6 linked regions of the Homo sapiens genome follow. The gene in region 3 interacts genetically with the main gene of each other region. Each region holds a gene or a part of one and is shown on either strand. Other genes may lie near its edges. The genes, in order: YTHDC1, MCM3AP, TBCB, CDK12, CCNK and MZT1.

Region 1 (3,500 bases), on a different chromosome or scaffold from region 3:
GAAATAATCTGTTTTGATTCTGAAGCCATATGATGGAAATCTAGGGGTATTTTACCAAGGAAATACTGTAATACCCAGTGGACAGGTTTCCTATGAATATACTTCAAGTACATCAGTGTTTAAATAAACTGCTGACTGGTATGAAAATCTAAGAATTTACAGAAATCTGAAATACATTTCCTTATACAGAATCAAATGGACTTGTGTTCATTTACAACACAACCATTCTGTAGCTAGGAAATGCCTTTCCTAAAATATGTAAATCTTATCCAAGATTATTCAAATGTATTTATAACATTCAAAAGCATATAAAGGATCACAAGACAATCCTATTAATATCCCCCATCTCCTCAACAATTTTATAATTTAAACATTTTCAAGACTGAAACCTATCAAGCTTTTTTTAAGACAAACTTTTACATATAAAAAGTAGTACCTGATCCATCTGTGCCTGAACCAGATCTGACAGACCCATCTGTGAAGGAAACAGATTCAGAACCAGAGTCACTGGCCTCACTTCGAGTGTCATAATCATTTCCCTCCTCTTTCTGGTCTCTCTCATCCTGTTCATATTCTTCTTCTTCCTCCTCCTCCTCCTCCTCTTCCTCCTCCTCCTCTTCCTCCTCCTCCTCTCCATCTTCATCCACCTCTTCATCTTCTTCTGCATCTTCTTCTACTTCTTCATCTTCCTCCACATCTTCTTCCACTCCTTCCTCCTCATTCTCAGTGTTGTTCCCTTGCTCATCAGAAGAACCACTGCTGCCAGTCTCATGGTCAGAGCCATATTCTTCAGAGTTCACTTCTTCCTTAGAAGACTGGCTGGATCTGCTTGCACGTCTATCCACTTCAAGCCCAATTCTCTGATGTTTAAAGAAAAAGGGAATCAGCAGTCATATAAAAGACAAGGTCAGGGTGAATAAACAGTTCTAAAGCCTCAAAAAGAATGGCTTTCTGTTTTATATCTGCAATAATATTTACTACCTCAGAACCATCTGGCGTAGGAGATTTGGCCCTCCTTTCAGGATCCCTTTTCCGGACACAGGTTTTTTCAGGTTGATTCTTATAAGGTTCTCTGGAGGCACTACTTGATAGACGAATTTTCCGATCAGCATCTAGACGCTTGTTTCTTTCAGATCTTTGATATTCCTCATTTTTATACTCTGTGGCTGACTTTCCTTTTGTACTAACTATTCTTTTGTTATTGCTAACAGATGAGCTCAGTGGCTTAGAAACCAGTTGTCTAGAATGGACAGAAGGCTTTTGTCGTTTGGTATCAGTAGATTCCATTCGATCACTTTTTCTTTTTGATCCTTTAAAATACAATGTAAAAAAAAAAAAAAGAAGTATTTGTAGTATTCCATTTATTTCACCAAAGACTGACAATAATATATACATCAGGAAGGGGGGATAGGCCTCATTTCTTTAAAAGTCTTCTGAGAGATTTCTTCTCCAGAGTTAATCTAAAAGAAAACATAGCTTTCAACTATGGGAATAAAACCATATATTTGAGAAGTTTCATATATTAGAAAAAAACAGATTATCCCTATTCATATGGATACCAGTTTATTATGTACATTTAGTGTTAACTGCCTCAAGGAACAAGCACAAAAAAGCACAGTCATTTTTTTTAAGAAATTGAATCTCCTCTATTTATACTGTTATTTCAACAAAAATAATAGAACTCTTACATACCCTTTTTCTCATTTTTATCTTGTTCACTCTCTGGATTATACAGTTCATCATCTTGTTCTGGTACTTCAGTTAAAATATCATCCAGAACATTAAGTTCTCCATCTGCAAATAAAATTAAAAATTAATAGGGAAAAATCACTATCATTGAACATGTATTTTTGAGTACTTACTAAGTGTGAGGCCACAAGCGCCTAGGAGCTTTTACTTTTATATAAAAAGCTTTACTTTTATTTCAGAATCAAGACACAAGATTAATTTCTATAAAACTAATACAGGGTAAAGAATTGGCCAGTCGTGGTGGCTCATGCCTGCAATCCCAGCACTTTGGGAGGCTGAGGCAGGCCAATCACGTGACGCCAGGAGTTTGAGACCAGCCTGGCCAACATGGCAAAACCCTGCTCTGCTAAAAATACAAAAATTAGCAGGGCATGGTGGCACATGCCTTTAACCCCAGCTACTCAGAAGGCTCAGGGACAAGAATCACTTGAACCTGGGAAGCAGAGGTTGCAGTAAGCCAAGATTGTGCCACTGCATTCCAGCCTGGGCGATAAGAGTGAGTTTCTCAAAATACACACACACACACAAACAGAAGTCTGGGCTATCTGGTCTACAAAGCCAGGAGTATACATCTCAGAAGGCATGAAAAGATATACTGAGGCATAAAAAGAAAATGCAAGAATGTCTCTATTTTTACCTCATTCTTTAATTTCTAATATTTCTGAGGGCTTTAAAATGTGTACAATAAATTAGTATACAAATACGTATGTACAACTTATAAATACACATTTACCAAAAATGTGCACTCTCCACAATTACAAAGGGAAAACGACTTTACAGTGGAGAAATGTTTCACAGGCCAAATTAACCAGATAATCAAAGTTAACATCACCAGTAATGAGACAAATCAACATCATGGACCTCCTGTAACAATGCTCTGAGAATAGAACAATGCTTTTGTAATGTTCTATGCAAAATGGAAAAGCTGAACCTACATGAGGAAAAAAATCAGACAAACCCAAATTAAAGGGCATCCAAATATGTCACTGTCATGAAACAAAGAGTAAGAACTATTTCATATCAAAGCAGACCTAGAGAGGCATGATAACTGAACACAGCCCACAATATTGGACATAATTGGAAAAACTGGTGAAATCTGAATAAAGTTTGTAAATCAGAGTAAGTAGCAATGTTATTTTTCTAATTTTGACTGTACTATGGTTAAGTCAAAGTCCTTATAACACATATTTAAGTATTTAGGGACAAAGATATATTATGTCTACAACTTACAAATGGTTCAGGAAAAAAGTGTGCACACATGCACGTACACACACAGACACACAGAATGAGACAAATGTGACAAAATGCTAACATCTGCAGAATGTGTTTGGAGAGTAAAAGAAAATTCTTCACACTGCACTTGTAGCTATTATGCTTATCTGAAATTATGTCAAACTGCAAGTTAAATGAAAAAATTATCAATGTGCTATATAATAAAAAAAACATTTAGAGCCTGCTGGTGTGGACTGTAAAAGCACAAAACTTGTTCAGAGAAGGGAACTATGACTTTATTCAATGATCATGAAAGCATAAAACTCAGTTTTGTCCCCACTTCTACCTTGTCCAACAAGATAAACCTTAGAAATACACACAAATACCATTTTAAATTTTAAAATGTACTAATGCTAATAGTAAATGTTTAAACATTAACTATTCCAATATCAAAAACATCTTTCCAAATTTAAGGTGTGCCAAAGAGGAAGTATAAAGCCATGAAAACTGATGAGACAGAACAATTACATTTGTGGCTT
Region 2 (3,500 bases), on a different chromosome or scaffold from region 3:
TTCATTCATTCTCACTACCCCATTCTTCGCATTTTTGTTTTACATAATTTTTTCCTCTCTTATTCTGAGATCTTTGACAAAACTATCTGGGAACAGGGAACTGCTAACAACCTTGCAGGGCACCTGGAACTCCCTCTCCTGGTTCACTCACCTGTCTCATGAGGAGGATTCCTTCCTCATTTTCTCACTGGTGAGGAGAAACTATTTTCAGAAATGAACATGTGGGGCCTACGTCAGATGTGCTGGTCCCAGGGCACACCCCCATCGCTCTTCCCCCAGCTCAGCTCAGCCGACTGCAAAGCCAGACCAAGGTCCTCTACTATCATCCCAACATCTGCTACCAGACAGAATGCTGCACTATTGGCTACTGCCACTCCTGAAAGCTCTTCTCCTGTTTAAAGCCTGCCTTTTCAGCCACCTTAGGACAACTTTTGGATGTGAAAATTCACCTTAGGATGTCTCCCTTGTTGAGACTGAGCAGAACATTGTAGCCCTGGAACTCCGCTTCGCTGGCACAGAAGACACCCTTGTTTCTCAGGTCCTGGTACATCTCCTTCAGGCTCTGCAGGCACTTGGTCATGTTCTCATTATTGATCTTGGCATCAAAGGAGGACATGGGCTCCTCACACATGAAGTGGGCACAGTGGATGTGAAACCGGGTGCACTTCTCAATCAGGGACACCGTCAGGGGGTCACAGAGGTGCTGCTGCGTGATATCCTGGCCACAGGCGAGGGGGAGGATCACACACACATTCCCATGCAAAGAGGCAACCGTGAGAAGGATCATGCTACGACCTCAATTTCTCACTTTTCAATTTGAAACAAAGCCCATGATGCACATTTTAATAGGACTTTGTAGTGACTTAAATAAAAGTCCTGGGGTTTGTTTTTTTTTTTGAGACAGAAGCCAGGCTGGAGTGCAGTGGTGTCATCTTGGCTCACCACAACCTCCGCCTCCCAGGTTCAAGCAATTCTGCTTCAGCCGCTCGAGTAGCTGGGACTACAGGCGTGTGCCACCACGCCAAGCTAATTTTTGTATTTTCAGTAGAGATGGGGTTTAACCATGTTGGCCAGGCTGGTCTCAAACTCCTGACCTCAGGTGATCCACCCACCTCGGCCTCCCAGAGTGCTGGGATTACAGGCCTGAGCCACTGCACCTGGCCCACAAAAGTACATTTTTGTTACAGATAAAATATATAACAGAGTAATAAAAATATCAGTTTGACTTTGGAATTTGCGTGGATTTTTTAGCATCCAGGTTGGAGGCAGCCAATACCTTCCGTATGCCACGCGTGCGGTTCCACACGAAGTCATACCAATCCCGCAGGCTGCCCTCCTTCTGGTCCATGATCTGGGTCACCAGGTAGTCCATGGTCCTGCTGAGCACTGGCAAGGGCCGCAGCTCGTGGGGCAGGGGCTCCTCCTGATCCGCCGAGGACCGACTGTACTCTTTCACAGCTGCTGCGTGGTCCACCTAGAGACATGAAGCCGAGACAGGATGCCCATGTGGCATACCTTGGGCCAGGCATAGTTATGCCTGAAAATGAGGGGGAAAATCACATACACACCCACACAAGATCAGTATTTGAGAATATATTTTTTCAACATAAAATTTCTGTTAAAAGGTGACAATCAAAATTCAAAGACAAATAGAGAAATTTGATTTTGGCAAATATGACAAGGAGTTAAGATATGAGTGCGTCATGACAAACAGGAGGAATGTTAAGTGAAGGCACATCTGCTAGCCTCCAAAGCAGAGAGACGGGACAGGGAAGGGCCTCAAGCACTTAAAAGGTCTCAGGCCCGCTCACACACCAGATTAAGTCTACACAGAGCAGAAGTGAAACAGAGACAGGCGGTGAGGACTGCTGAGGACACAGCATCAGGGGCTGGCTGCCCACCTGGGGCCTGGAATTGCATCTCCCACCTCAAAAGGAGGCTGAAGACGTGGCCAAGGGAAGAGGCAGAGATGTACACAGGACAAGGCCCTGGGCATGTGCCTCTCCTGGGGCAGGGGCCCTACAGTGACACGAGTTGCTGGGCTGGGGACCCCGCACCAGGCGAAGGGTGTATAAAGCCACCAGCCAGGAAGAGGAGAAGCCCATAAGCAAAATTCACAAAGTCCAAAAGGATCTATATTGGTGCAGCTTTCTGGGGCAACAATTTGGGAAGATACATGGATAATGTTCAGGAAAGGTCATACCCTCTGATGCAGTAATTTAATTCTTAGGATCTGAAGAAAATAATCTAAATACCAGAGAAGCATTACATACAAGATGCCAAACAATATTACTAATAGAACTAAAAATTTAGAAGCAGCCTATCTACTAATGGTAAAAATGCAGAGTTTTGACAGAGCTACTAATAAAATAATATGCTGTCATTTTTAAATGCTCATAGTTTACCCTAACAAAGGAAAATGTTCATGACATAATTTTAAGTGGAAAAGATACACATAAAATTGTATCTAGAGCATAATCTCGAATGTGTAAAACATAAGCATAGAAACAGACAGGAATAAGATCGTAAAAAGAAAAAAGTTAGCTGGATGTGGTGGCTCACGCCTGTAATCCCAGCACTTTGGGAGGCGGAGGTGGGCAGATGACTTGAGCTTAGGAGTTCGGGACCAGCCTGGGCAACACGGCAAGACCCCATCGCTGCAAAAAATAAAACAGTAACTAGGCGTGGTGGAGCATGCCTGTAATCCCAGCTACTCTGTAAGCTGAGTGAGAGGAGAGGATCACCTGAGCCTGGGAAGTTGAGGCTGTAGTGAGCCATGATTGGACCACTGCACTTCAGCCTAGGTGACAGAGTGAGACCCTGTCTCAAAAAAAAAAAAAAAAAAAAAGAATTTGAAAAACAACTTTATTTAAAATAACTTGCATCTATACCTTATCATGTATAGGTACCAATTACAGAGTGAACATCTCACAATGCAAAACAGCTTAATATGATTGTTAATAGCACAAATACCCAACACTGTCTAAAACAAACACCCAAATCAAGTATGTACAGAAATGACAAAAGCAGCCCCGTCCCCTGCCCACACTCCACGGGGAGATGCAGGGCTCTACCTGGTCAGTCCCTGGGACCACTTCGAACACGCTCAGCTGGCTACGGGTCTCCCGCATGTACCTCTCCTTCTCAGGACACATATCCAGGCAGGTGCCAACAAAAGTCCTCGCTTTGTCCAGATCGGTTCTCTTCACCCGAGCTAAATGACGTCAAGTAAAAGGTAAGAATGTACCACATGGTTAGCACGAACCTACAGAAGTGTATTCTCATAATGATAAAAAGAAATTAAAACTTAAAACACACACACACATTACAAAAGAAAAGAAAAACATTTGTAAAACTCAGAGCCTCAGACAAAGAGGACTTATGGTCTATTATGCCAGGCAGTGGGACATCAAAGCTCCCAAAGACCCGAGTCCACCTCTCTCTAACAGTCACAGACCCTCACTGCAGACTAAGAGAAAGACCCCCGAGTCACCTCTCCA
Region 3 (3,500 bases):
GCACGCGGCCTGTGCGCTTCGAAGCGTGGGGCAGTGTCAGTCGCGGTGGGGAAACGGGCGGCGTGACCAAGGCAGGAGTGAGGGAACACAGGGGGCTGTGTGAGCCCAGAGGAAGCACCTGGAGGCTGGGAGCATCTGAAGGAAAGGAGGCAGCAGCCAGGTGAAAAGGGAGGAAGAGTTCCCGCCAGAAGGAGTAGCGGGTGCAGGTGAGCAGAGCGCAGGAGGTCCACCTGGGGAAGGGGAGCGGGAGGAGAGGGGAGAAGTGTAGTCAGGGGCATGGGCAGGGCGGCGTCACAGTGGAGAGCAGTGTGGATTTTTTTAAAAAGAACAGGCTAGGCATGATGGCTCACGCCTGTAAACTCAGCACTTTGGGAGAACAAGGTGGGAGGCTTGCTTGAGCCCCGGAGTTGGAGGTTACAGTGAGCTATGATTGTGTCATTGCACCCTAGCCTGGGCAGCAGAGAAAGACCCAGTCTCAAAAAAAAGGCTGGGTGCAGTGGCTCACACCTGTAATCCCAGCACTTTGGGAGGCTGAGACAGGAGGATCACTTGAACCCAGGAATTTGAGACCAGCCTGGGCAACATAATGAGACCCTGTCTCTACAAAAAAAAAAAAAAAAAAATCCCACAAAACTTTTGTCAGTTGTGGTGGTGAGCACCTATAGGTGCCCCAGCTACTTGGGAGGCTGAGGTGGGAGGATGGCTTGAGCCCGGGAGTTGAGGCTGCAGTGAGCTATGATCGCACCACTGCACTGCAGCCTGGGTGACAGAGGGAGACCCTGTCTCCAAAAAAAAAAAAAAAAAAAGATACACGGGGTACATATATGTATTGTTACATGGGTGTGTTGCCTGCTAGTGGGTGGGGACCGGGCTTCTAGTGTACCCATGACCCAAATTGTGAACATCGTACCCAACAGATAATTTTTCAACCCTCACCACCCTCCTGTTTCTGGCATCCCCACTGTCTGGTATTTCCGTCTTTATGCCTGTGTGTACCCATCCCCCAGTCGTCTTCAGCCACTAATTTACGTCTGTCTCTAATTTGCCGATTCTGGATGTTTCATAGGAATAGGATCATGCAGTCTGTGGCCTTTTGTAACTGGCGCCTTCCACTGAGCAGAATGCTTTCAAGTTTCATCCGTGGCATGCCTGTGTCAGTGCCACACTGTTGCCAAATAGTCCTGCATTGAGCGCCTAGACCACAGTGTATCCAGTCACCAGTTAGTGGACATTAGGGTCATTTCCACTTTTTGGCTATTATGAATAATGCTGCTATGAACCTTCTTCTTTTTTTTTTTTTTTTTTTTCTAATTTGAGACAGCATCTGGCTATTGCCCAGGCTGGAATGCAGTGGCACAATCTCGGCCATTTCAGCCTTAACCTCTTGGGCTCAAGCCATCCTCCCACCTCGGCCTCCTGAGTAGCTGGGAATACAGGTACTCATCACCACCCCCGGCTAAAGTTTTGTGGTTTTTTTTGTAGGATGGGATTTCGCCATGTGGCCCAGGCTGGTCTCAAACTCTTCCCGCTCAAGTGATCGTCCTGCTTCAGCCTCCCAAAGTGCTGGGATTACAGGTGTGAGCCACCATGCTAGGCCTGAACATTCTTTTATAAATTTCTGTGTGGCTGGGCATGGTGGCTCATGCCTGTAATTCCAGCACTTTGGGAGGCCAAGGTGGGCAGATCACCTGAGATCAGGAATTTTGAGACCAGCCTGGCCAACATGGTGAAACCCCATCTCTACTAAAAATTCAAAAATTAACTGGGCGTGGTGGCGGGTGCCTGTGATCGCAGCTACCCGGAAGGCTGAGGCAGGAGAATCGCTTGAGCCTGGGAGGCGGAGGTTGCAGTGAGCCAAGATCACACCACTGCACTCCAGCCTGGGCAACCATGCAAGACTCCATCTCAAAAAATAAAAAATACATTTTTATGTGGACATTTGTTTTCATTTCTCTGTGCCTAGGAGTGGAATCCCTGGGCCACATGGTAACACTGTGCTTGACTTTTTTGAGGACCTGCCACACTGCTTCCCACAGCCGCTGCAGCAGTTTTCATTCCCGCCAGCAGTGCAGAAGGGTCCCATTTTGTCCTCATCCTCACCAGCACTTTAGTCTGTCTTTTGCTTACAGTCATCCACTGGGTGTGAAGTGGAACATCATCATGGTTTTGATTTGCACTTCTTTGGCAGCTAATGATGTTGAGCATCTTTGCATGGCCATTTGTGTATCTTCTTTGGAGAAATGTCTATTCAGATCCTTTGCCTTTTGTTTTTTGACACACAGTCTCACTCCGTCACCCAGGCTGGAGTGCAGTGGTGCTCTCAGCTCACTGCATCCTCTGCCTCCCGGGTTCAAGCAATTCTCATGCCTCAGCCTCCCGAGTAGCTGGGATTATAGGTGAGCGCTACAACACCTGGCTAATTTCTGTATTTTTAGTAGAGACAGGGTTTTGCCATGTTGGCCAGGCTGGTCTCAAACTCCTGGCCTCAAGTGATCCACCTGAGCTGGTGGATCTCCCAAAGTGCTAGGATTACAAACATGAGCCACTGCGCCCATCGGTATGTCGGGGTTTGGTTTTGTTTTTTTTCTTTTGAGACGTAATCTCGCTTTGTGCCCAGGCTGGAATACAGTGGCATGATCTCAGCTCGCTCGTTCCAACCTCCGCCTCCCGGGTTCAAACGGTTCTCCTGCCTCAGCCTCCCGAGTAGCTGGAACTACAGGCGCCCGCCACCACACCCGGCTAATTTTTTGTATTTTTAGTAGAGACGGGGCTTCACCGTGTTAGCCAGGATGGTCTCGATCTCCTGACCTCGTGATCCACCCTCCTCAGCCTACTAAAGTGCTGGGATTACAGGCGTGAGCCACCGCACCCGGCCAGTATGTCATCTTTTGAGAAGTGTGTGTTCATGTCCTTTGGCCATGATCGTGGCTCACTGCAGCCTCAACTTCCTGTTGCCCACTTTGTAATGGGATTTTTTTTTTGCAAAGTGGGTGTTCTTTGAGTTCCTTGTATATTCTTCTGCTCAGTTTTTCATTGGGATGCTGTCTTTTGTCGCTGAGTTGTGTATTAGTTTGCTAACAAAGTACCACTCACTGAGCAACTTAAAGTTATTTCTCACAGTAATGGAGGCTAGAAGTTCAAGATCAAGCTGTCAGCAGGTTGGATTTATTCTGAAGCCTCTCTCTCTGGCAAGGCAGTAGTGCCATCCCCCTTAGGTTTTTACAAAGCCCTCACTGGCTGGTGTCTTCACCCAGTGAATGGGGGACAGGGGTGGAAGCAGGGACACCAGTGAAGTGGCTACCATATTAGTCCCGGCAGGAGCTGGAGGTGGTCCTAGTGGTAGCAATAGAGGTAGCAAGAAATGGTTTTCACCAAGACAGGCTTCTACTCAATGGGTAGGCATGGATCCAGGGTGATCCTGAAATTTCATGGGGATTTCTTCTATGTCCAGAAGCTTCACAGGGATTTCTCTTCTGTTGGCAGGTCTCACAGATTTCAAG
Region 4 (3,500 bases), on a different chromosome or scaffold from region 3:
CAATGTATCAACATTCTAGTGTAATAAATGAATTTGGCTGGGCGCGGCAGCTCATGCCTGTAATCCCAGCACTTTGGGAGGTAGAGGCAGGCGGATCATGAGGTCAGGAGTTCGAGACTAGCCTGGCAACATGGTGAAACCTGGTCTCTGCTAAAAATACAAAAATTAGCCAAGTGTGGTGGTGTGTGCCTGTAATCCCAGCTACTAAGGAGGCTGAAGCAGGAGGATTGCTTGAACCTGGGAGGTGGAGGCTGCAGTGAGCCGAGATCACACCACTGCACTCCAGCCTGAGCAACAGAACAAGAGTCTGTCTCAAAAAAATAAATGAATTTGGACATTTCTTTGGAGCAATCAGATTTAGAATTACTACCTACTCATGAACTAACATCCTATCCATTTTTAAGACATGTAGTCTTTCTTAAGAAAATGACCTCCAAAATTTGACATTAAAGCTATAATACTGTCACTGACAAATTCAAAGATAAAATACTTTTTTTTTCTTTTTCTTTTGAGACAGAGTCTTGCTCTGTTGCCCAGGCTAGAGTGCAGTGGTGCAATCTCAGTTCACTGCAACCTCCGCCTCCCAGGTTCAAGTGATTCTCCTGCCTTAGTCTCCCTGAGTAGCTGGGACTACAGGTACACGCCACTACGCCTGGCTAATTTTTGTATTTTTTAGTAGAGACGGGGTTTCACTATGTTGGCCAAACTGGTCTCGAACTCATGACCTCAGGTGATCTGCCTGCCTCAGCCTCCCAAAGTGCTGGGATTACAGGCATGAGCCACCGTGCCAGGCCAGATAAAAGACTTTTTATGTGCTATAATGTGGGATATGAATCTCTGAAGCTCCAATACAATACAGAGGCATTCATAAGATTTTAATTAAATAGAGACATATTAAAAGATCATATTTCTTTTATGTTACTTTAATTTTTTGAGATGGAGTATCACTCTATGGTCTAGGCAGGAATGCACTGGCACAATCTCGGCTCACTGCAACCTCCACCTCCCGAGTTCAGGCGATTCTCCTCCCTCAGCCTCCTGAGTAGCCAGGACTACAAGCATACACCACCACACCTGGTTAATTTTTTGTATTTTTAGGAGAGACGGGGTTTTACCATGTTGGCCAGGCTCTCTTGAACTCCTGACCTCAGGTGATCCATCCACCTCGGCCTCCCAAAGTGCTGGGATTACAGGTGTGAGCGACCGCGCTCGACCGAAAGATCTTATTTCTTACATCAAAATTCAGTAATCTGGCTGGGTGCGGTAGCTCACGCCTATAATCACAGCACTTTGGGAGGACGAGGCAGGCGAATCACCTGAGGTCAGGAATTGGAGACAAGTCTGGTCAACATGGTGAAACCTCATCTCTACTAAAAATACAAAAATTAGCCAGCTGTGGTGCCGGGCTCCTGTAATCCAGCTACTCAGGAGGCTGAGGCACGGGAATCGCTTGAAGCCGGGAGGTGGAGGTTGCAGTGAGTTGAGATTGTGCCACTGCACTCCAGCCTGGGTGACAGAGTGAGAGACCCTGTCTCAGAAAAAAACAAAAACAACAAAAAAAACTGGCAGTGATGCAAACCATTTAAAACTGGGACTGTTGGCCGGGTTCAGTGGCTCACGCCTGTAATCCCAGCACTTTCGGAGGCCGAGGCAGGCAGATTACCTGAGGTCGGGACTTCAAGACCAGTCTCACCAATATGGTGAAACTCTGTTTCTACTAAAAATACAAAATTAGCCAGGCATGGGGGCGCATACCTGTAATCCCAGCTACTCGGGAGGCTGAGGCAGGAAACGCTTGTGGTGAGTCGAGATCACACCACTGCACTCCAGCCTGGGCAACAAGAGTGAAACTCTGTCTCAAAAAAAATAATAACAAAAAAAACCCCAAAAAACTGGGACTATCTCTGCAAGTGTGAGATATACATGGTCACCAGAGACATGCATGATTACAGCTGGAGGAATGGTTAAGAGCAAAAACCAGAGGGAGGCCAAGCATGTGTCTCCTGCCTGTAATCCCATGACTTTGGAAGGCTGAGGCGGGAGAATCACTTGAGCCCAGGAGTTTGAGACAGTCTGGACAACATTGTGAGACTCCATTTCTACAATTGGAAAAAAAAAAAAAAAGGCTGGGAGTGGTGGCTCATGCCTGTAATCCCAACACTTTGGGAGGCTGAGGCAGGCAGATCACCTGAAGTCAGGAGTTTGAGACCACCTTGGCCAACATGGTGAAACCCTGTCTCTACTAAAAATACAAAAAAATTAGTCGGGCGTGGTGGCCTGCGCCTATAATCCCAGCTACTCAGTAGGCTGGGACAGGAGAACTGCTTGAATCCAGGAGATGGAGGTTGCAGTGAGCCGAGATCACGCCACTGCACTCCAGCCTGGGCGACAGAGCGAGACTCCGTCTCGGAAAAAACAAAAAAGGCTGGGAGCAGTAGCTCACATCTGTAATCCCGGCACCTTGGGAGGCCAAGGCGGGCGGATCACCTGAGGCCAGGAGTTCAAGATCAGCCCGGCCAACGTGATGAAACCCTGTCTCTACTAAAAATACAAAAATTAGCCGGGCATGGTGGCGTAATTCCAGCTACTTGGGAGGCTGAGGCAGGAGAATTGCTTGAAACTGGGAGGCGGAGATTGCAGTGAGCCAATATCACACCACTGCACTCCAGCCTGGATGCGAAGAGTGAAACTCCGTCTCAAAACACACAAACAAACAAACAGGCCAGGCACGGTGGCTCACACCTGTGATCCCAGCACTTTGAGAGGCCAAGATGGGCAGGAGTTCAAGACCAGCCTGGCCAACATGGTGAAACCCCATCTCTACTAAAAATACAAAAAAATGGCCAGGCACTGTGGCTCATGCCTGTAATCCCAGCACTTTGGGAGGCCGAGGTGGGCAGATCACCTGAGGTCGGGAGTTCGAGACCAACCTGACCAACATGGAGAAACTCTGTCTCTACTAAAAACACAAAATTAGCTGGGCATGGTGGCACGTGCCTGTAATTTCAGCTTGGGAAGGCTGAGGCAGGTGAATCGCTTGAACCTGGGAAGCAGAGGTTGCGGCGAGCTGAGATTGCGCCATTGTACTCCAGCCTGGGGAACAAGAGCGAAACTCCATCTCAAAAAACAAAACAAAATGAAACAAAAATACAAAAAAATTAGCCGGGTGTGGTGGCAGGCACCTGTAATCCTAGCTACTTGCAAGGCTAAGGCAGGAGAATCGCTAGAACCCGGGAGGTGGAGGAGGCAGAGCAAGATTCCATCTCAAAACAACAACAACAACAACAACAACAAAAACACGCTGGACGCAGTGGCTTACGCCTGTAATCCCAGCACTTTCGGAGGCCAGGGTGGGTCACCTGAGGTCAGGAGTTCGAGACCAGCTGGGCCAGCAAGGTGTAACCCCGTCTCTACTAAAAATACAAAAATTAGCTGGGTGTGGTGGTGTGTGTCTGTAGTCCCAGCTACTCGGGAGGCTGAGGCAGGAGAATCGCTTGAAC
Region 5 (3,500 bases), on a different chromosome or scaffold from region 3:
TTGACAATTTGCTCTGTTGGCAAAGCTATAGAGAAGCAGGTGATCTTATAAGCTTCTGGTGGGAGTACAAAATGGTCCAACTGTCACAGAGAAGTTGACGATATCCAACAAAATTACACATGCATTTGCTCTTTGACCCAGGATTCCCACTGCTGGGAATCGACTCTGAAAATATTGTCCTAACTATGAAATGTCACAACTATGAAACAACATGTGCACAAGATTATTCACTGTAGTGTTATTTATAATGGCAAAACTATGAACAACCCAAACGCCCATCATCAGGGGACTGGCTGAGTAAAATATGACACATGCACACAATAGCATACCCCACAGCTATTAAAAAGAATGAGAAACATCGTTAAGTACTGGATGGAGAAATTTCCAGATCAGCAAGGTATAGGATAGTGTACACAGTATGTTAGCATCTATGTAAGAAAGGAGGGGAAAAAACAGACATCTCTTTTTTTTTTTTTTTTTGAGACGGAGTCTTGCTCTGTTGCCCAGGCTGGAGTGCCAGTGGCATGATCTCGGCTCACTGCAAGCTCCACCTCCTGGGTTTACGCCATTCTCCTGCCTCAGCCTCCCGAGTAGCTGGGACTACAGGCGCCCGCCACCACGCCTGGCTAATTTTTTTGTATTTTTAGTAGAGATGGGGTTTCGCCGTGTTAGCCGGGATGGTCTGGAGCTCCTGACCTCGTGATCCGCCTGCCTCGGCCTCCCAAAGTGCTGGAATTACAGGTGTGAGCCACCGCGCCCAGCCAGACATCTCTATTTTTTTAAAGTAATTCAAAAAATATTTACCAATAAGGAATGGGGAAAAACAGGATGGAAAAGACAGGAATGGAAACAAGACTTCTCTATGTATATATCTTTTTATACAGCTTTGCCTTTTTATGAAAGCTTTTATTTTAAACTAATTGTACGTTTACAGAAGAGCTGTAAAGATAGATGAGTTTTGTCTATACCCTTCACTTAGCTTCCCCAATGTAAACATCTTCCATAACCATGGTTCATTTATCCAAAAAAAGAAATTAACTTTGGTATAACCACTATTAACTACACATCATATTTGGGTGCAGGTGATATCAGAACAACTTACTGCTGTTAACCATGAGCTCTTGGTTAAGATGGAGTCTACCAGGTTTCTCACTGTAAATTATTATTTTTCCCTTCCTATCTTCTATTCCTTAGATGCAAGTCACGAGGTCCAGCCCACACTCAAGGGTAAAGGAATTAAGCTCTACTTTCTGGAGGCAGAGATATCAAAGAAATTGTGGACATATGTTAAAACCACCCACTAGTAAGTAAATATTTTGGGGGAAATATTTTACAATGCAAAATACTATACAAATGTCTATTTCTCCTTCAAGTTTCATCTACTAATTTTAGCATTCACCTGAGACGATTACAACTGTGGTGTTCTAATGGTGACTTTCTATTTCCTTCACTGCTTCAACATTTATTATTTGGAATCATTTTGTTAATATTTGTTTCTTCTCTCCCATTTGTTTATTTACTTTAGTACAGACATGAGTATTTTATTCTTTGGGTTATAATCCAATACTATCATTATTTATTTTGTTGCTCAAATTATTCCAATGTGGCCATTAGGTGCTCTTTCAGCTTGACTCCCTGCAGAGTACTTTTATAACTTTGATGTTTGAATCATGTAAATATTTAACATACTCATACACTTAACTAAAAATAAAAAAGCAAATCCTAAAACTCAAACCAAATGGGCAACAAAATCACACAGAAACTTACTTCCAAGTAATTTCTGATATTGTTACATGCTTAGTGAGATATATTCTAAGGACAAAAATAACTGAAAAGAATTATTTATTTGTTTATTTATTTACTTACTTACTTATTTTAGAGTCAGAGTCTTGTTCTGTCACCCAGGCTATAAGTGCAGTGGCATGATCCTAGTTCACTGCAGCATCGAACTCCTGGCCTCAAGCGATCCTCCCGCCTAGCCTCCCAAAGTGCTAGGATTATGGGTATGAGCCACAGTGGCTGGCCCCAACGAAATTTTAAAACTTCATTAGTGTACTGTTAGTAGTGTCATTAATGTTGTAATTTTCAAACACATTTTTTTTTGCATGTTGTGGAATAAAGCAAATATGTAAATGCTAATGTTGTTAGGAACCAAGATTTTCAGTGCAAAGAAAACAAATGCACACATGCAGAAAACCAAATGTTAAGAAACAAATCTGTAATGTTAAACTTTAACTGAAGATATCAAAATAAATCATGGTTAAAAAAAAATATATATATATGTATCCCATTTCTGTCCTTTTCAAGTACCAAGAAGGAATGACACTCCTAATTCTGAAATCTTAACTTTTTCAATACCAATACCCTCTAAAAGGAAGCAGGTTTCTTTCCAGTCTGGGGTTGGAGCCTGCCTGGGATGTACTCAGACTAATCAAAGCTTATCAAAAGACATAGGACTGCTGAAGGAATGATTTGCTAGGGAAAAAAAAAAAAAAGACATAGGAGCCACCATGATGGGTGCCCACTGGACTAATCCAAGGTAATTTGAATAGCAAAAAGAAAAATAACTGTGGTTGATCATAAAATAGTGAACATACAATCCAAGTGTCCATAATATTAATACATATAGAGAATAATACTTTGCTAGCACTGATAACTACTGATAATAAAATGCTACTGATAATAAATGCGACTTTGCTAGCATGGATATTAACTACTGTAAAAAAAATACAGTTGATCCTTAACAAAATGATCACACTTGACATCACTAATAGGGTGAAAACCTGACATTACATGGCTTCTGATGTGATGCAATGTGAAATAAATATCACCTACCTATGTAGTATTCTTGTCCCCCAAAAGCTTAACCTAAATTTAAGCAAACTTTTGACCGAACTTCCAGTTTACAATAAATACTGGTGGTACAAGAGTAAGTGAAAAAAGCACAACATGGAAACTATCAGTCACATCCAGAAGGTGAGACACTCTACTCAACAACTGACCCGGTCTCTTCAAAACAGTGTTATGAAAAAACATTTTGAGAGACTGTCTTAGATTTAAAAAGGCTAAAGAGGGCTACAACAAAATGCAATGTGTGAACCTTGATTAGATCCTGCTTTTTTTTTTTTTTTAAAAAAAAGAAATTTCAAACAATTTGGAAAAATTTAAGTATAAATTGTATATTAGAGGGTATTAGGGAGGGAATTACTGTCAGTTAATTTTCTTTGGGGGTAATAATGATATTGTGATTACACAGGAGAATGACTTTATTCTTAGCAGATGAAGGCTGAAGTATTTTGGGTAAAGTGTCATGATGTCTGCAACCTACTTTCAAATGGTTCAGCTAAAACACAACCACACAGTAAACATGGCAAAAAACGAACATGTGTCCACAGGTAAATAAGTTGTCATTGCACTATTCTTTCATACAATAAAAAGTTGGGGAAAAAGTCAGATGAGACTGAATAGGAGACCAGGAGGACTCCTTATCTTCATCAATC
Region 6 (3,500 bases), on a different chromosome or scaffold from region 3:
AGAATTTTACTTAGGTACCGGATAGTTTTGTATTTCTAATTCTTGAGCTTTATAATGAGATACCGTTATCTGGAAATGGTTTGATCCTTTCGGATATTACTTCTTAGATCTGTTAGGCAGGACCAGAGCCCTGTTTAGGATAGGGCTAATTATTCCCCTTATGATTGAGGTAAGAATTCTGAGTACTGTATCCAATGTCTTATGAATTACAAAGATTTCCATTCTGGCTGGTAGTTACAGGCACTATCCTCAGCCCTGTGTAAGCACGGTGCACGGTTCACTCTAATCCTTCTAGATGGTTCCCTCCCAGCTTTCTGAGTACTTTCCTCACACATCTGCTAATCAATGCTCTGAATACTTAAGGGGGACACTTCTACAGATCTCCAGCATTCTTTCTGTGCAGTTCTCCCCTCTCAGGTACTGTTATTCAAACTCTACCTGCCTTGGTCTCCCAGGTCTTCTAAACTCCTCCTACTCACTTCAGTGTGTCCACTGGGTTCTCCCTGCTATACTGAGGCCTGGAACTCTCTGAAGGCAGTGAGCTGGGGCAACCCAAGAAATCACTTTGCTTGTTTCCTGTCTCTAAGGGATCACTGTACTCTGATGCCTGATGTCCAGTGTCTTGAAAACCATTGTTCTGTATGCTTTACCTGAGTTTTCTTGGTTGTTTCAAGTAGAAGCATAAATCTAATCTCTGTTACTCCATCTTGGCTGGAAGATGACAGCTCTTCCCATTTTCATTTCTTCAGTTTTGATATTCCAATTTACTGATACTTTGCTCTTCAGCTGTATCCAGCCTGTTATTCATATTATCTGCTGAATTTATTTCAAATTTATTTCAGTAGCTTTCAAGATTTCTAATTTCTAATTTCTCACCATAAACACTTGTTTTATAACTAAATGCTTATTTATAGTGACAAATTTCACAGCTGTTGTTCCTGCCTTCGTCTATTTAAGGCTATATTCTTAAACTGTATTTGAGATTGCTCTATTATCTCTATTTCTTGGAGTATAAGCAAGCAGCAAAAGACAGTGGTTAGGAGTGTGATCTCTAGAGCCAGACTACCTGTGTTCAAATTCTAGCTGTAGTATTTAGTAGGCAAGTTACTCTCTCTGTGCCTTATTTCACCATTCTCGAAAGTGAGGATAATAAGAGTACCTGTTTTAAAGGATTAGTGTGAGAATTAAAGGATACACTTAGAATGGTATCCATTTGTTTTGCTGACACTGCCTTGCAGTCCTTTGGAATGGTGCTTGGCATACGGTAGGGCTCAATAAAAAAGAGTTCCCTGTTACTACCACTTTCCCTCTTTTTCCTTTTCCATGTTAGTTGCTCATGTTTTTCATCTACCTTAGGTGCTTTGTCATTCTTGGCTGAAAACTCATCTTCCATAGATTTATTTTAGGTGTCCTGGACTGGTGGCCCATTCTAAGATAGGAAGCCGTACCCTAGCTTTAGGCCTCTAGATCAGGCCTTGTAGTATTTTTGGTCCAGATCCAAAAAACACATGGATGGTGCTTCTCAATCTCTGGCTGTGACAAATGGCACATTTCTGACTCCCAACTTCAGTGAGGCAGGGTAGCATGCTTTGTCAGATTCTATTCCCGACAATCCCCTGCTGTGGTTCCCATCTGCTCCTTTCTTTTGGGGGGAAACCTCTCTCTTCCTAATCAATGGAGACTTCCCTTCTTGCTTTTGAACAGGTCTATCCTGATAATTATATTTTCTTACTATTTCCTATTTTTTTATATGCTTAGAGTTTCAGCAAGTGCTCAATCTACCATATTGAATCTTCACTTTATTTTTGACTGTCTTCACAAATGGATTCTACTTAGCCCTTGTACATTCTAAGTGGTTACCATCAGTATACTGGAACACTACATATTAAACTTTTTAATCACCAGTCACCTTGATGAATTCTATGATGCTTCTAACAGTTTTTCAGTTGATTCTCTCCCTTCTCTCTCCAGTTTCCAGTTTGTTCTCTTCATGGTAGACCCCCCCACGTATAAAGGCTATGCTTATTCCTGACTTCATGCCTTTGTTCTTGCTTTTCTCCTCTGCCTTTTATCCTCCCTTCATATAACTCAATGCTGTTTTCTTAGTCCATCTCATTTGTGGTTTCTTCTTTAAGCCTTCTTTTCAAATGGACACCTATTTTTACTTCCTATTTTCACAAATCGCCTGTAATCAAAAACTATTTCTTTAGTGCCTACCATATGATCAGTACAGGTTGAACACTCCTAATTCCAAAATCTGAAATGTGAAATGCCGCAAAATCCAAAACTTATTAAGTACTGACATAACACCGTAGTGGAAAATTCCACACCTCATATAATGGATCAAAGTCAAAATGCAGGTGCACAATACACAGTTCATTCAGCATCCCTGAGGGAAAAAACCAAAATTACCTTCAGGCTATGTGTATAAGGTATATATAAAACATACAAGAATTCTGTGTTTGGACTTGGGTCCCATCCCCAAGATATCTCATTATGTATGTGAAAATATTACAAAAAAAAAAATCTGAAATCCAAAACATGGTCCCAAGGTTTTTGGATGAGAGATAATCAACCTCTAACTATATGTATTTTGTGCCTATTATGCTACTGCTGCAAATACAGTTATGAACAAGGTATATATGGTCCCACTCCTCACAGATATTAGTCCAGGAGGAGAGATAGATATTAAAGTAATAACTGATTCCAGATATAAGTAAAATAAATAAAGAGTGGAATACTTCTGAAACAAATTACAAGGGCATCTTACCAAGTTTGGAAGGACACAGTGTTTAGCAAAGACTTGTCTGAAGAAGTGACAATTACACTTAGACATCAAAAGTGAGTAGAAATCAACCAGACTAATACAGAGGCAGGAGGAAGGGTGATGGTTGAGAGCAAAGAAAACAGCTTGTGTGATGGTCCCTACACTAGAGGGAACTTGGTAAATTCAGACCTGAACTGCTATTGTGAAGGCAATGTAATTAACGGGGTGAATGGGTATAAAATATGAGGTAAGTCCTAGTGAAGATCTTAGAACTGTGGAAAGCTACTGGATGATATAAAATAGGAACATAAAAAAATCAAACTTGCATTTTAAGGACTTTTTGGCTGAGTATCAAATGAATCTTTAAAAAGTCCAGTTATATCACAATTTTGATAAAAGACTGGTGGGTAGGATGAACAGGAGATATTTAGCCAACCTGAAATGAGTCAAGAATTGAAAGGGCTTAGTGAAGAACAGGAGGCAGAGGAGGTGAGAAAGCAAGACTGACTTCTAGATTTCTTTCTCAAATGTGCAACTGGATTGATGGTGGTAGCATGGACTGTTTCGCTGGTACTGCCTTGCAGTGCTAGTCAAATGGAATCTATATACCATAGATTCTCTTAACTCCTTTCTCTATAACGTGTTTTTTTTTTTTTTTTTGAGATGGAGTCTAGCTCTGTCACCCAGTCTGCAGTGCAGTGGCGCAATCTCAGCTCACGACAACCTTCGCCTC

The links.
Region 1: changes in TBCB (region 3) and YTHDC1 together harm fitness less than expected from each alone (positive genetic interaction), as found in Homo sapiens cells (one large-scale study listed by BioGRID).
Region 2: changes in TBCB (region 3) and MCM3AP together harm fitness less than expected from each alone (positive genetic interaction), as found in Homo sapiens cells (one large-scale study listed by BioGRID).
Region 4: changes in TBCB (region 3) and CDK12 together harm fitness less than expected from each alone (positive genetic interaction), as found in Homo sapiens cells (one large-scale study listed by BioGRID).
Region 5: changes in TBCB (region 3) and CCNK together harm fitness less than expected from each alone (positive genetic interaction), as found in Homo sapiens cells (one large-scale study listed by BioGRID).
Region 6: changes in TBCB (region 3) and MZT1 together harm fitness less than expected from each alone (positive genetic interaction), as found in Homo sapiens cells (one large-scale study listed by BioGRID).

What each region holds. Positions count from the first base shown.
Region 1 is NC_000004.12:68,336,591-68,340,090, forward strand, and holds part of YTHDC1 (YTH domain-containing protein 1), read right to left. Parts: intron 1,795-3,500; coding exon 1,693-1,794; intron 1,311-1,692; coding exon 982-1,310; intron 861-981; coding exon 437-860; intron 1-436. UniProt on the Homo sapiens protein: Regulator of alternative splicing that specifically recognizes and binds N6-methyladenosine (m6A)-containing RNAs.
Region 2 is NC_000021.9:46,272,112-46,275,611, forward strand, and holds part of MCM3AP (germinal-center associated nuclear protein), read right to left. Parts: intron 3,215-3,500; coding exon 3,075-3,214; intron 1,475-3,074; coding exon 1,277-1,474; intron 719-1,276; coding exon 450-718; intron 1-449.
Region 3 is NC_000019.10:36,121,968-36,125,467, forward strand, and holds part of TBCB (tubulin-folding cofactor B), read left to right. Parts: exon of another isoform or gene 1-206; intron 207-3,483; coding exon 3,484-3,500.
Region 4 is NC_000017.11:39,520,486-39,523,985, reverse strand, and holds part of CDK12 (cyclin-dependent kinase 12), read right to left. Parts: intron 1-3,500. UniProt on the Homo sapiens protein: Cyclin-dependent kinase that phosphorylates the C-terminal domain (CTD) of the large subunit of RNA polymerase II (POLR2A), thereby acting as a key regulator of transcription elongation.
Region 5 is NC_000014.9:99,487,909-99,491,408, reverse strand, and holds part of CCNK (cyclin-K), read right to left. Parts: intron 1-3,500. UniProt on the Homo sapiens protein: Regulatory subunit of cyclin-dependent kinases that mediates activation of target kinases.
Region 6 is NC_000013.11:72,721,130-72,724,629, forward strand, and holds part of MZT1 (mitotic-spindle organizing protein 1), read right to left. Parts: intron 1-3,500. UniProt on the Homo sapiens protein: Required for the recruitment and the assembly of the gamma-tubulin ring complex (gTuRC) at the centrosome.